Linked DNA regions of Homo sapiens. The protein of the gene in region 1 interacts with the protein of each later gene in a pairwise test. Each region holds a gene or a part of one and is shown in the gene's direction. Other genes may lie near its edges.

Region 1 (7,268 bases):
AATCCCATGCATCCTCCCCCAAAATTTTCTCTTGTTTAGTGTTTTGTCTCCTCTGCATTTTTCCCACTCTCTTCTTCATTTTCATTCTCTCCTGCGTCTGTTTTCTCTCTTTCTCTCTAGATCATGGCTGTTAGAAGTCCCCTCCACAAAAACTTGCCAAGGAGTCATTTCCTGGTTTTTGCACTGCTGCCCTTCCCCGTCTCCTTAATCTCTTTTTAAGTAGGCAATTAACTTGTGCGTGCATGTGTCAATTATGCCTATAAAGACTGCTATTCTCTACAGGGCAAAAACCTCTGCCCTCCTGCCTCTGGAGGGGCCAAACTCAACTACACTGTGCTCATCGGAGAGACCCCTTGTGCTGTCACCGTATCTGAGACCCAGCTTCTCTGCGAGCCTCCCAACCTCACCGGGCAGCACAAGGTCATGGTGAGTGAGCCCTGCGTCTGTAATGCCTCCTTCCCGCCTCGTGGTGCATGTGTGATCTGTCCTAAGGAAAGGCTCTCTTCTGTCTCGTTGCCTGACTCACCCCCTCCATATCTCCTCATCTCTGGGTCCTACATCAAATTGGGTATAAGCTGAGAACACAAGAAAAGAAAGGCAGATGCCGAGGCAGGAAATTGCTTTTTATCTAGAGCTGCACTGTGTGGTTGTGGTCTGTCATGTCCTTCCTCGCACTGTAAGGATCTGCTGGCATGCCCGGGCTCTACACCTGTGTGCATCCATGTGCGTCTGTATGTGTACAATGCACAGGTTCACGTGGGCGGGATGGTGTTCTCGCCTGGCTCGGTGAGTGTCATCTCAGACAGCTTGCTGACCCTGCCAGCCATCGTCAGCATCGCGGCCGGCGGCAGCCTCCTCCTCATCATCGTCATCATCGTCCTCATTGCCTACAAGCGCAAGTCTCGAGAAAATGACCTCACTCTCAAGCGGCTGCAAATGCAGATGGACAATCTGGAGTCCCGTGTGGCCTTGGAGTGCAAGGAAGGTTAGTGGAAGCACACCCTCATTTGCTGGGTCCCTCTTTCTCCACCTGCCTTATTGCCCTTCTCCCTGCAGACAACTCCTATCTTTACTCCCATCGCTGCCAGCCATGCCTCTGCATTCCACTTTCACCCCTGTTTTCCCAGAACTTCTTTTGCTTATAGGGTCAGAGATGTCCAATGAAGAATGCCCACTGCATGAGGACCCAGGTCCAATTGCATTGTTCTAGTCCCTTCTTTGCCCTGACCCATCCCACAATCTGGCAAACACTTTCTCCCTCTCAGGGCCTCAATGTCCCCACAGTCAGAGTCCCCAGGCTCCACAGCCCCAGACTCTAGATCCCCCATGGGAGTGTCCAGCTCTTGTTTTTCTGCACACTGTCTTCGCAGCACGTGGGAGCAGCGGCAGCAAAGGCAGACAAGCACCTGCCTCATCTCCCCCAGGGTTTGTTTTCCATCAGTGCTGCAGGCTGAGCGCTCTGAAGGCCGCCACTTGCTGGTGTCCTTGGCTGTGGACGTGTGTGGGAGTGCAGATTGTGTTTTCTCCCATGTCCCACGCAACCACAGCCTCGAGGTGACGAGTGTACCTGGCGTCCTCTCAGGCTGAGGACCTGGCAGGCTCTCTGGGTAAACAGCTCAATTAGGAATGAAAACATTTCTCCTTTTGCTGCAAATGTCAAGATCAGAAACAAGCCCTCTGCTGGATGACAGGGAAGAGCTGGGCTGGGAAATAGGACATGTGGAGCCAAGGTTCCTCCTGGCAACAGGGCTGGTGAGTTTGGCAGAGGAAGGAGCCAGGAAGACAGGTGTGCCACCACCAAGGTGAGGCTTCTGAAGCCCTTGCCTTCCCAAACTCGGCTCTCAGCTGAGCGTCTCATGACCAGACCTCCCCTAGGCTTTTGCATCTTGATTTATTACCTTGATTAGAAAAGGGCAGCACTTTGCCTGTTCTGGTCTTTGCTGGACCCCCTCAGCCATGGTCTCTCACCTGCCTCCAGCATCTCCGTGATCTTTACTAAACGGCCCAATCATGATACTTTTTTTTCCTTGTTGAAACTACACTTGTAATATGTAAAGAGAAAATTTGAAATTATAGATAAGTATAGAGGAGAAAATAACATAAAAATCACCCATTTCCCCACCACCTAAAAACAGCTGGGAGTAGCCCCGCCCTCTGGAGACACACTCCCGTAATCCTCAGAGTCTCTACAAAAGGTCCTCCCCTCGTCCTTTGCAAACTTCTTCTCCCTCTTTCTCCTCCCCCGACTGGGGCTTCCCCACGAGCCTCTCCGTCTGCTTATTCTCATAGCTTTTGCTGAGCTCCAGACGGATATCAATGAGTTGACCAGTGACCTGGACCGCTCAGGAATCCCTTACCTGGACTATCGTACCTACGCTATGCGAGTCCTGTTCCCGGGCATCGAGGACCACCCCGTCCTGCGGGAGCTGGAGGTAATGCCTGCCTCCTGGGCCCAGCCACCCAGCAGGGATGCAGGCCCAGGGTATCCTAGGAAATCCAGATGAGACTCAGCAGTACTGAGTAAGGTTAGCAGGGAAGAGGGGTCAGTAGTTTGTAACAGCATCTCAGCAACAGAGCTATCAGGAAGGTTACGGCTGAGGGGGCACCCAGGCTCCTTGGGATGGTTCCAGGGTAAAGCTCATTGTTTGTCATTTTTTAATTAATGACTGAACTAATTAACTAAGATCCTGCCTCATTCTAAAATGGATTTAAGATGGCTTAAAGAAAGACACAGGATTCTATGAGGTTTGTTTGTTCATTTGTTGGTTTGTTTTACTAAAGATAATAAATCAGGCAGAGGAGATTAAGGGGAGACTAGTAAACTGAAGAAGTTTGAGGGGGCATCTCCTATTCTATCCTTGGGAAAATCAGGCAGCCTCCCCTCTGAGAGCTCCGCATGGAGCCCAGCCTCCCCGGCCCAGTGCAAGGTCAGAGCAGACTGTCGACCTTAGAGCCAGCTGTTCCTACATCATCACGGGTGAGTGGAATGGGGTGGGGTTGGTTATAGGCCTCAAACATAGGGTCCTACAGCTAGTGTCATCGCCAGCAGGCCCTCAGTGAGACCCTCAGGTAGGAGGCCCGATGCCTGTCCTCTGAGGGCGTCGCCTCCACCACACCCCACCCCAGGTACAAGGAAACGGGCAGCAGCACGTGGAGAAGGCCCTGAAGCTCTTTGCCCAGCTCATCAACAACAAGGTGTTCCTGCTGACCTTCATCCGCACCCTGGAGCTGCAGCGCAGTTTCTCCATGCGCGACCGGGGCAACGTGGCTTCGCTCATCATGACCGGCCTGCAGGGCCGCCTGGAATATGCCACTGATGTCCTCAAGCAGCTGCTCTCTGACCTCATCGATAAGAACCTGGAGAACAAGAACCACCCCAAGCTGCTACTCCGGAGGTCTGGCCCGCAGCAGTGGGTGGAGAGGGTGGCAGGAGTCTGAACCTGGACAGAGCACCTCATTATAGCAGGCCCCACAAGCAGCATGAGAAGGCCCACTCCCCAGAAGGGGCACCCATTCAGAGCAGCCTGTGTCCTCACGTCTCTGCAGGGCAGAATCTGACTTTCCCTCAGCCCAGGGAGACTACAGAGTCTGAAGTCACCCAGGTGTGATGGATGAGCTCAGACCCTTGCTCGGATCTCAGCTGGAGTCCCAGCTCTGCCTCCTGCTAGCTCTGTGATTTCTGGCCAGTGTTGTAACCACTCTGTTGTTTAGTTTCCTCCTAGACAAAATGAGAAAAATAATTCCTATCTCACAGTCTCTTCCTCCCGGTGCCTCTAGAGCTGTGCTGTCCGGCACAGCGGCCCCTAGCCACAGGTAGCTGCTACAAATTAAAATGAAATAGAATGTAAAATCCAGCTCCTCCATTGCCCTAGCACCTAGCCGCTTTCTAAGTGCTTGGTTGCCACATTGCAGCTAGTGGCCACCATACGGGACCGCACAGATAGAGAACATTCCCATTATCGCAGAAGGTTCTATTGCGCAGCACTGAGCTAGGGATTTGGACAGCCTAGAAGGCCGTGCCTTCTGAGCTCAGCTTCCTGGATCTGAATCACAGCATCCACTACACATGCCCACTGCATTTTTCCTGGCAGGGGAGAGGGTTGGAGACCTCAGTATCCCCTGAGCCCACCCTCTCTAGAGGCCGTGGGGAGCCGGGCACAGCTTTGGAGTCCTCTGGGCAGCAGGGGCTGGAGGGCTGCACCTCCGTTCACCACCCCTCCTCTTTAGCCTTCCTCTAGCAAGGTCTCAGGCTTCCAGGCCCCACGTGGGGTGAGGAGGGAGGAAGAATGGCTTTGCTTTATGAGTACTGAGCCCCCATCCTGCCAATCTGAGCATTAGAAACTCTCATTAAGAACTGTTGTATTTAAATTAGAGCTAATCTCAAGCACAATGCAGGGAGAGGGTGCTGGGAGGAGCCACGGGAGAAAGCTACAATTTTTTCTGCCATTGTCACTCTCTCCCAGGCCCAGATTGCTGAGCAGCCCTGGCAAATGCCTGGGATTTACTGCAACCAGAGGATATAATTTGCACCACGTGCAGGGAGTTAAAATACCCCTCCGGCATCCCCTTCACTGAGGGTCTGTCACAGCCGCTTTGTTCCTTCCCAAATCCCCAGATCTGTAGCCCTGGGATGGGAAGGGGAGGGGGGCCAGCCCTTGCATGAGCAAATCCCCTGTTGGCAAAACACTTAAGCACTGCTCTCTACCTGAGGGCTGGGATCCAAGACCCCACATGACAGCAATAATGACAGCTAATGGATAGTGCTTAGCAGGTGCCAGGCACTTTTCTTAGCACTTTACAAATATTAACTCATTCAACCCTGACAACAACCACTGGGGTTGGATGTTATTATGACTGTCTCCATTTAGTGATAGGAATACTGAAACCAGAGAGGTTAAATGACTTGCCCAAGGTCACACAGCCAACGTATGGCAGAATCAGGATTTGAACCCAAGGAAGTCTAACCTTGAGTGTTTTTGGAGGGGAAGGGACCAGGCACCTTCCAGATAGGCAAAACAGGGTACTCACACATGCAAGAAAGCCCAGAGGGACTGGGAAACTCTCTAGTTATCACCCTGAGGCCAGAAGTGAGTTGGGAGAACCGGTTCTTTATAGCCCTGTGGGATAGTGAGGTGCCTTTATCCACAGACCCTGTCTCAGATGCAGCCAAAGTTCAGAGCACCACGGACCATCAGGGCTGAAAAGGCCAACCTCTCCATTTTCATAGGAAATTGAGGCCCAGAAAGAAGCCACCCCTACCCCCAGGTCACAGTCTAGTTACTGGGTGAGCTGGGCTGGGACCCAGGTGTCCTGACTCCCGCCCTGCGTTCTCCCATGCTCCATTGTTCTCTTGGGAGACCTCATGGCAAGCCCAGGCCCCACCACGGAGACCCCTCTGTGAAGGACTGCCCCTTACCCTTTGTCCCTTCCCCAGGACAGAGTCTGTGGCTGAAAAGATGCTGACCAATTGGTTCGCCTTCCTCCTGCACAAGTTCCTAAAGGTGAGAAAGGGAGTGAGACGGGGCCTAGCGTCCAGGGCAGGATGGCACTGCTGCTTAGATCCTGGCCACAGGGCTGCATGGGGACCCCCTCCCTCGGGAGCAGGAACCTGGACTGGCTGTGCTAAAGCCCTTCCTTCCACTGGCCTCGCTCCGAGAGAGGAAAGGGAAAACGTACAAACCTGAGGAGGCCGTGCCCACACCTCCTGCCCTGTCTGTGCCCACAGGAGTGCGCAGGGGAGCCACTCTTCATGCTATACTGTGCCATCAAGCAGCAGATGGAGAAGGGCCCCATTGATGCCATCACGGGCGAGGCCCGCTACTCCCTGAGCGAGGACAAGCTCATCCGGCAGCAGATCGAGTACAAGACCCTGGTGAGGAAGCCGGAAGCTCCGGGCCCGCCTGTGTATCTTCTACTTCTGCCCCTTGCTCTGCCTTCTGTCCATAAAAGCAGTCTAGGGGGTCAATAAAGAGGATGGGAGGCTGGTCTGGGGTGAGCCCAAAGGACAACTAAGTGTACCAAGAGCAAGGTGGCAGGCCCGCCCACCCATCCCAAGCACTCTATGCCTCGGTTTATCCTAGATAATATTGGGGGAGAAAAAAGTTCACCCATCATTAGTTATTGGGTAATTGGTATTATGAGAAAGATGTATGTTGGTTCCTAACATAGAGGCTTTGGGGAAGTGCATGACTAGTCTCTGATACATGTAGAGCCATCTCTAAACACTGAGGGTGCCTCATTCCAGGACTATAGTCTCCCCTAAGCTGTCCAGGAGCTAGAAAGTAGAGTCCTGGTGCTTTGAGAAAGAAGAATTGGACACAATGACTCAGACTCTCATTTGGCAGATGTTATGAAGGTGAGGGAAACTGAGTCACAGACCAGAAAAGTACCCTTATTTCCCCTATAAGGAGGGTGAACTTTGGAAAAAGAAGATTCTGAGGTCCTGACCCTCTCCCTCAAACTACTCCTTCAACTCCTGTCCTGCTCACCCTCTGTCCCCTACTTGTAGATCCTGAACTGCGTCAACCCTGACAACGAGAACAGTCCAGAGATCCCAGTGAAGGTGTTAAACTGTGACACCATCACACAGGTCAAGGAGAAGATTCTTGATGCCGTGTATAAGAATGTGCCCTATTCCCAGCGGCCGAGGGCAGTGGACATGGACTTGGGTAGGAAACCTGGACTCAGAGTGTGAGGGCAGGGGTTGAGAGGTGAAGGAAGGGAAGCTGCCATGCACACAACCCTTGCAGGGGCATGACTGTGTCCTGGCCAGCTGAGGCCCGTGTGAAATGCTTCCCGCTTTGAGCGCTGCCTGTTCAGATGTGGCTGTCTCTGGGGAGGTCTACGTGTTTCCTCTGCTGCCTGGGCCCATGGAGCCCTAGATGTCTCTAGCCTCTGTTATTGGTACCAGCTTGAGGGGGCCGGGTTGCCAGGTCCCTAGAGAAGGTGCAATCGGGAGACACTGGCTCACAGCCCTCATCCCTCTCACGCCGCTCCCTGCACCACCCCCTCCACCCAGAGTGGCGCCAAGGCCGGATCGCCCGGGTCGTGCTGCAAGATGAGGACATCACCACCAAGATTGAGGGTGACTGGAAGCGGCTCAACACACTGATGCATTATCAGGTGAGAGGGGGTGTCTTTTCCCCTCTTCAGCTTCCCAGAATGTTCCCTTCCCGCTAAGCCTTGCTCTAAGGCCTCAAAAGTCTAAAAAGGATTTTCCTCTCCCTGCTTTCCTCCTCCTGCTGGAGCATAGAACAGGGATTCTTAGC
Region 2 (7,415 bases), on another chromosome or scaffold:
CCAGCTACTCCAGAGGCTGAGGCAGGAGAATCACTTCAACCCAGGAGGCGGAGGTTGCAGTGAGCTGAGTTGGCACCACCACACTCCAGCCACAGCGACAGAGTGAGACTCCGTCTCAAAAAAAAGAATTCTATTCAGCTTTTAAACAGCTGTATAATACTCCATCATATAGATGCAACACTATTTAATTAGCCCTACTACTGGGCACTTAGGCTAGTTTGTTGTTGTTGTTGTTGTTTTACTATTAAAAATAGGGCTACAGTGTATAACCTGGTGCTATTTGTTTCACACATTATAGCTGTAAGATAAATTCCTGGAATTGCTGAGTCAAACATTATGTATATTTTCATAAATCTTGTCAAACTGCCCTCCCAAGTTGTACCAACGTAAGTTTTCATCAGTGATGTATGCAAAGGTTGATTCTCCACCCTTACTGGCCTCCTCCGCAGCAGAGGTAGGGTCAAACTTTTGGATTTTTGCCAGCCTGACAGGTATTTCGGCCTAGTATTAATTTGTATTTCTTCATTTATGTGTTAAGTTGAGCATCTTTTCAAATGTTTGTAAACTACTTGGGTCTCCTTTTCCATCGCATGTATGTTATCTTTATAGGAAATGCTCATTCGTGTATTCATTCATTGACGGTGGACTACACGTGGACTTCATGTTGGCCACTATAGGAGCTACTACAGGGTAGATGGGTAAACTTGAGAGACACAGCCCTTGCCCTCTCAGAACATGCAATCTGATGGAAGAGAATAATTTTGAGCTAGCTATTGAAGATTTATGGAACACTTACATACATTTATCTATTTGTGAAACTATATATGTAACTTATACATGGAAAAATGCTTGGCTATATACTGAAATTAACAGAAATAATTTTTGAGTGGAAGTGATTTTTTTTTCTTTCCTTTGTGTTTTTCTGTATTTTTCAAGCTTTTGTAATGTATACACATTATGTTTGATGTTAGGTAATTTCTTTTCTCTTTGTTCATTGTTTAAGTTTTTCAAGGTTGGTTGGTTGGTTGATTTTTTTACAGGGAACATGTGTGATTTTTTGCAATTAGAACAAAAGGAAATAAATAAGAAGAAGACATCATACATACACCGTTTACCTATGTTTTAGACATAAATAAAACACAGGAAAGAAGAGTTCTTTCTCTAGAGTGACGGTGAGTTTGAAGAGGAAGATATAGAAATCCACTTTCAGAGCTGGGATTTGCTGTCATAAGTTCCAGCACAGGCCTTCACTCACCAGAAAAGCTGAGGACATGTCTCTCTTCAGCTGGGCAGCCTCTTCTGTGTCCAACAAGACAGGAATCAACAGCTCTGAGAGCTGGAAATCTGGCCTCCGGATCCAGGCCTGGGAATTTCCCTTTTCTGATGCCAGCTTCAGGCCCAGTGTCTAAGGGCGACCCCTGTTGGTGGGACTTAAGTATGCTCATTATTCGTGAGCTGCTTCTCCAAGGGTGGAGATGCCCAATTCAGTTTTAATTTTTTGTGGGTCTGCTGGAAACCTTGAGGCCCACAGCCCACTCACACACTACCCTAACTACATCCTGCTTCCCTTTTCTCCTTGTCCTCCACCCGTCTACTCCAGGTTTTCCTGGACAACTGGGTCTGGAGGCTTGGCGTATGGAGCCACAGGTGTGGCCAACCTTTTAAACTGTAATAAGGCAGGCTGCTGTAGGGTCAGGTGCTGTCTTTGCTGATCAGCAGGTGGAGTGTGGAGGCCCTTGTTTTAGGGAACAGATGTGGCATCCTGTCAGCAGACTGAGGATGCCAGACTTGGGCAGCTTGAGGCAACAGTGAGCAGGCAGGCCAATCTACTGCACAAGGATGTAGCTGAGGGGGCTGCATCCCACCTGAGGAAGGTGGGTTGGAGGCAAATGCAAAGAATGGAGGAAGGGCAGGCTTTCTGGGTGGCAGGTCACACCATTGATGGGCGTTTCCCTTCTCTCTGGAGACTCTCTGCTGGGAGATTTCGGCAAGAATCAGAAAACTAACACAGCCTTTCTTGACCAGCTCTTTCCTGTCTCTGCATTTATAAGAGCAAGACAATGGATTGCGAAAGTGTGGGCAGTAAATCCACCAGTGTCATGTTGCTATATTTATCCATAAAGAATTACGCGGCACGCCCCGTTCATCACTGAGTGCTGAATGGCAGTGCTGAATGGAGAACTGGCTGGAGAATCTGGTTTTAGACATTCGGAGCCTGTTTGTAATTCATCAGCACTGCTCTTTTCCCCTGGGCATTGGTCTGTGATAAAGAAAACTGGATACCAGAGGAATGTGCTGGGCATTTCAGTGCTTTGAGAAAACATAGCCAAGCACTTCTCAGGGCCCATCCCTAGACAGGACCCTGCCTTTACCACTTCATCTCCCAGATGGCTGTGGAGCCAGCCCCTCACCAGAGAGCTACCTGGCTCCACTCAGGCCTCAAATCTACTGTCTGTTGATGGAAAATCCTGCATGTCGTGCCAAGCCAGGCTGATTCAAGGTCGACCTTTCTCCATTTGGGCCAAATGCCCAGCACCCCCAAACCCCTAACACACAACTCTTTGTGGGTCTGGTTTCTGGGAGCTCCTTAAGGAAGAAAAACATAAACAGGAATCATGGTGAGGACTGGGGAGAGGGGCCCTGGGTCGGGGGGGCTCCATTTTATTCGGCTGGAAAGAAAAGGTTGGGGAGGAGGGCTTGCCATTGGATCCAGTTCATTACTTCCCAATAAATCAAAGAAGGGCTGAGAATCCTGACCACCACCCCCAGTAAGGATCAAGTTCCGCTTTCTGGAAGAGGCCTAGAGGTGGATTGCAGGACTTCCCAGTTTAACCAGGTGACAAAGGCTTCTGCTTCAGCCCAGATGTGATCACAGACTTCCACAGCTTCTGCCGACCACAGCCTGGCCTTAAAGTCCAGACCTAGAGTCCCGGAGCTAGTGTGTACTACACAGAATGGAGACCTTGCCTGAGGAGCTGGTTCTCAGAGAACACTGGCAGGAAGGAAGAAAGAAATGTATATTCTAGGAGGCCTCTGCTAACCAGGAAAGGGGGCTGAGTCACACTCTGAAAGGTGGAAGAGGCAGAGAGCAGGTATCAACGCCCTCATTTTACAGATTAAAACAAAACAAGAAAAACAAACACTCCTCACCTCCCTGCAAAAAAACCACCCTGAGGCTCAGACAGGGGAAGTAGCTGGCCCTGGTCACACAGTAGGTTAGCGGCAGAGTTGAGAGGAGACTCCATATGCCCTAGGGATGTGTTGTGATGAACTTTTCCTACTGGTACTGTTTCCTCCCGCGAGGGAATGTCTAGACCAGCCGCACCTTCTTGCTTTGACCCTTCAGAACTTTGGCCTGTCCAGTTAAAGAGGCACAGAGCCCTCCTACCCACAGGGAATGTTTCTAACTTACCAAGCACCTATTATGTGCTTAGAACTTGGACTTTCCTGATCTCATTTAAGCCTCACCATTCTAGTGAGGAAGCATCACAGAACCCATTTTCCTGATGAGGAAACTGAGACTGGGAGGGGTTAAGATCCTGTACACAGTTGTAACTGGCATGTCTGAATCCAGTTTCAAACCAAGGTGCCTTTCAGTGAACACCCAAGCATCTTCCTCTCGGATTAACTGCTAGGCCAATACCAAAATCTCTTTCTCGGGCTACTCTTTTGCTGCTGAGTTAAAAAGAGATCCTGAGACTTAGCCTGGGACCCCGACTCGCGGCGATTCTGTGGCAGGCGCAGACCTTTTCTCCTGTCCTCCACTGCCTCTTTGCCTCGGAGGGCGCCCCGGGGCGCGAGCGGGGCACGGGCGACCCTGGCTCCTTGGAGGCCCGGGGACTTGCTCTCCGCGGTCCGCCGCGGCCGCTCCACCGAGTCCTGGCCTCCAGCGCCCTCACCTGGCTGCTGCGGGCGGGACTCTGCGCACCCGGGCTCCGCGGGCTCAGGTCTGCGTCTCCCAGAGCCGCCGCCAGAGCCCGCCCCGGTCCGGCCCGGGCACAGGGCCCCCGCCCCACTTGGGCAAGGCGGGGGCGCGTGGAGGGAAGTTTCATCGGGGGGCGAGGGAGGGAGCTTCGGTGCCGCGCGGGCGTCAGGGGCTCCTCGGGGGAGGAGTCAGTAAAAGTGGCTATAAAAGCGGCCTCTCGGCTGAGGGCCGGGGAGCTAGCGCTCAAGCAGAGCCCAGCGCGGTGCTATCGGACAGAGCCTGGCGAGCGCAAGCGGCGCGGGGAGCCAGCGGGGCTGAGCGCGGCCAGGGTCTGAACCCAGATTTCCCAGACTAGCTACCACTCCGCTTGCCCACGCCCCGGGAGCTCGCGGCGCCTGGCGGTCAGCGACCAGACGTCCGGGGCCGCTGCGCTCCTGGCCCGCGAGGCGTGACACTGTCTCGGCTACAGACCCAGAGGTAAGAGGGCCTGGCTGGGGGCGTCAGGGATGAGCTGACGGCCCATGCCACGGAAGAGAGGTAAGAAGTGGGGGCCCGCGCCTCCACCCGGCACAGGGTAAACGTTACCCGCCTCAGTTTCTGTTTGTCTGTCCACCCTGTGCTGTGCAGTCTACCTCTATCTGTCTGTTTGTCCATGCGTCTGTTGATGGGCACACGCTCTTGGCACTGTCCTCTGTGGGATTTCTCTGAGATCTTGTGATGCTTTACAAGCTGCAGGTGCCGGGGGGCGCTGGAGTCCCCAGAGGGCATCCAGAGGGGGCAGACTCCTGCTTTCCGTAGATTTTCCCCCTTCTGAATGGCACCGGGGGCTTGCGCCCGGGAGAGTGTCTCGCCGAGGAGGGAGTACCACAAGGGTCAGGTCTCGGTGTCCTGCCGACTGGGAGCCAGCTCACGCCGAGCTCTAGCGGGCGTGCGCCTAGCAACAGGTCTGCGCCCTGCTGCTCCTGCCTCAGCACGCTCTTCCTCCCAGTTTCCCTCGCCTCCCAGTGCCTCCGGGACAGCGCTAGGCACCCAGCGACGCGCTGGCGCGGGGCCGAGCTGAGGCAATTGCAATGTTAGATGAACCCGGGGGGCTCTGCTGATGTTTAGACTGAGACTCCAAACGTGGCATCGCTGGAAGAAGGTCTGGTGGTCCCTGGCAAAGGACGTCGGCTCCAAGAAAGGTCGCGTTAGGTTGTGAGGAAAGGCAGAGAGTCCTGGCAGAACGCTGGCCAGGTCTCCAGCTCGCCGCTCTGGGAACGAAGGCCAGTGACATTCTGGAATGGACCCCAAGGGATGCGTGTGCTCATGAGAGAGGAGCGCTGTGCGCCCTGGGTCCTCAGCCGCAGACACTCTCTGCGACAGCCGCTGTTCCCCAAGGGTCGGACGCTACGGCAGTCCCAGGAGTTCCGCCAGCTGCCGGGTTTGAGGTCCTGAGTCCTTCTCCAAGCAGCCAACGCTACCCACAGGTGAGAGCTCCCTTTAAAAACTAATCTTCTGATGTGTGAGCCAGTGCCTGGCTGCAGCCCCATACCAGGGACGGTGAGCCGGGGAGCGCGTCTCTCCATCCCTGCGGTCTGGAAAGTGATCCAGGGCGCGCCCGAGGGCGGGGAGCCGGCGGCTCTGCGTGCCCAGGCGCGACGCCACCATGGACAGCTCCCAGCCACTTCCTCCACTCGGGGTCTGTGGCCCTGGGTCTCCGGGGAAGTCGTGCGCTTTCTTCCCAGACCCAAGGCGTTGGGGCGCTGGGAAAGAGGAAAGGGACTGAGAGTCCGCTGGGGCCCTCGGTATTACCACTCAGGAGGCAGCCCAGCCCTCAGGAGTCTGTGGTTTGTGACCAGGTCCTAGCTGAGCCGGCAGTTCTGCAGGACCTCCCGGGGGCACTCTGTGGTTCTCTGGCTTTTCTATGACACCACGGAGACCCCTCAGAGCTGTTAGGAAAGTATGGCCCCTGAGAATCCGACCCAGGCAGTGAGATAATGCCAGATACAATTACGCCAGACATAATTAGGGATCCAGCTCAAACTGTTTTCTGTGTAGGGCACAAGTTCATGTGTTCCATCAAATTAAATTATTTATTTAGTACATATGGGATTGGGAGGATATATTAGTTTTACGATTAATGATAGAATGGAGAAGAAATCAAATAGAGCAAATTTATAGAGAAGGCAATCGGATGCATTTGCAAAAGCAACTATGCGGTTTTCTGATCCTAATAGTTTTGTTCAAAGCCCATGACTTTCTTAAAGCAATTTCCAAAGGCTCCTTTTTAGCCCAGTAGATGACTTTTCAAGTTGGTCACTTGAAACAGGGTGGAAAAACCTGTAGGGTTTAATCTGTGCACCAAATTAAAGATCTCCCTTCTCTGGTAAGAAACGACACTGGATGGGGCTCTTTTTGTCATTTCCACCCATACTGAAGTGTGTATCTTCCTTTATTTTAAAATTACAAGAAACGCAGGTCTGCTTTTTTTGTGTGTGACTGACAAAGGCCGACGGAGAGTAAAAACAAGTAAACACCTCTTATAAAAAAAAATTTTGAGACAGCATCTGTGACTTTGGGAAAGTTGCTCAAATGTTTTGTGCCTGTTTGCTGATATGTAAACTGGGAATAACGCAATGCCATCTTGCAGGGTTGCTATGAGAATTACAGTAATTGGTACAATGTAAAGCATTTAATCCAGTGCTGAGCATAGAGAAATCGTTTTAAATGGTAGCAATTACAGGTATATTTTAAAGACAGTTGTGCATTTCTTTTGAATTATGTTCACCATCCCTTTGCCCTCTCTCTTAACCTAGTAACTGTTTGATAGGGACTCCATCTTCACTTTATTTTTGCATCCGAGAACTTGTTGATGGAATTGATGAAAATGCTGGAGTTGATCACAATGAAAAAAAAATTCTTATTTAAAGACAAATGGAAGAACTTTTATGTGATAAAAATCGGTCAACTGTTTTCCCCTACCTACACTACTTGGAGGAAAGATAAAAGTAAGTTGTTTTCAAAATACTCTCACAGCCCTCTGGTTCAGATGATCAATTTTTCCTGATTGTTCTCTCACAAGAATGCAAGGTCTTCTAAGTGGCTTTGTTGTCTTTCTGCAAGTGAAGTACTCTTGGGTATTGATGGAGAGTGGCCTCTAAGGCCTGGTTTCTAGATCACTCCAGGATGAAGTAGGGGTTAGCTTTATGGAGTGGAACTTTGCCCAGGGGTTCACTGAGTGGTCATTGCCAAGCAGGAAGCACCTTACTTCATGCTTGAGCCTTGCTTAGGTGTGAGATTCTGACCAAGATACTTGCTCTGCCCAGAGCAGTGAGCACTTATTTGATCCCAGCTGGACTGGAGGGTCCCTTCCAGCTCTGCATTTCAGGGTTCTGTCTGGTAGACATCACTAATACATGACACACCACAGAAGTTTGGAGAATGGAATTGTATAGTACCCAGTCTTCCAGTTAGAGTTTTCTCCCCCCACAAAAGTGTGTGTGTGTGCGTG

What was found.
Region 2: the proteins of PLXNA2 (region 1) and CEMIP interact in a two-hybrid assay, tested with the Homo sapiens proteins (one study listed by BioGRID and IntAct).

What each region holds. Positions count from the first base shown.
Region 1 is NC_000001.11:208,038,225-208,045,492, reverse strand, and holds part of PLXNA2 (plexin-A2 precursor), read left to right. Parts: intron 1-282; coding exon 283-426; intron 427-750; coding exon 751-985; intron 986-2,289; coding exon 2,290-2,432; intron 2,433-3,126; coding exon 3,127-3,395; intron 3,396-5,434; coding exon 5,435-5,501; intron 5,502-5,725; coding exon 5,726-5,872; intron 5,873-6,508; coding exon 6,509-6,668; intron 6,669-7,018; coding exon 7,019-7,122; intron 7,123-7,268. UniProt on the Homo sapiens protein: Coreceptor for SEMA3A and SEMA6A. Necessary for signaling by SEMA6A and class 3 semaphorins and subsequent remodeling of the cytoskeleton. Plays a role in axon guidance, invasive growth and cell migration.
Region 2 is NC_000015.10:80,775,213-80,782,627, forward strand, and holds the start of CEMIP (cell migration-inducing and hyaluronan-binding protein precursor), read left to right. Parts: upstream 1-4,157; 5' UTR 4,158-4,402; exon of another isoform or gene 4,403-6,912; intron 6,913-7,415. UniProt on the Homo sapiens protein: Mediates depolymerization of hyaluronic acid (HA) via the cell membrane-associated clathrin-coated pit endocytic pathway. Binds to hyaluronic acid.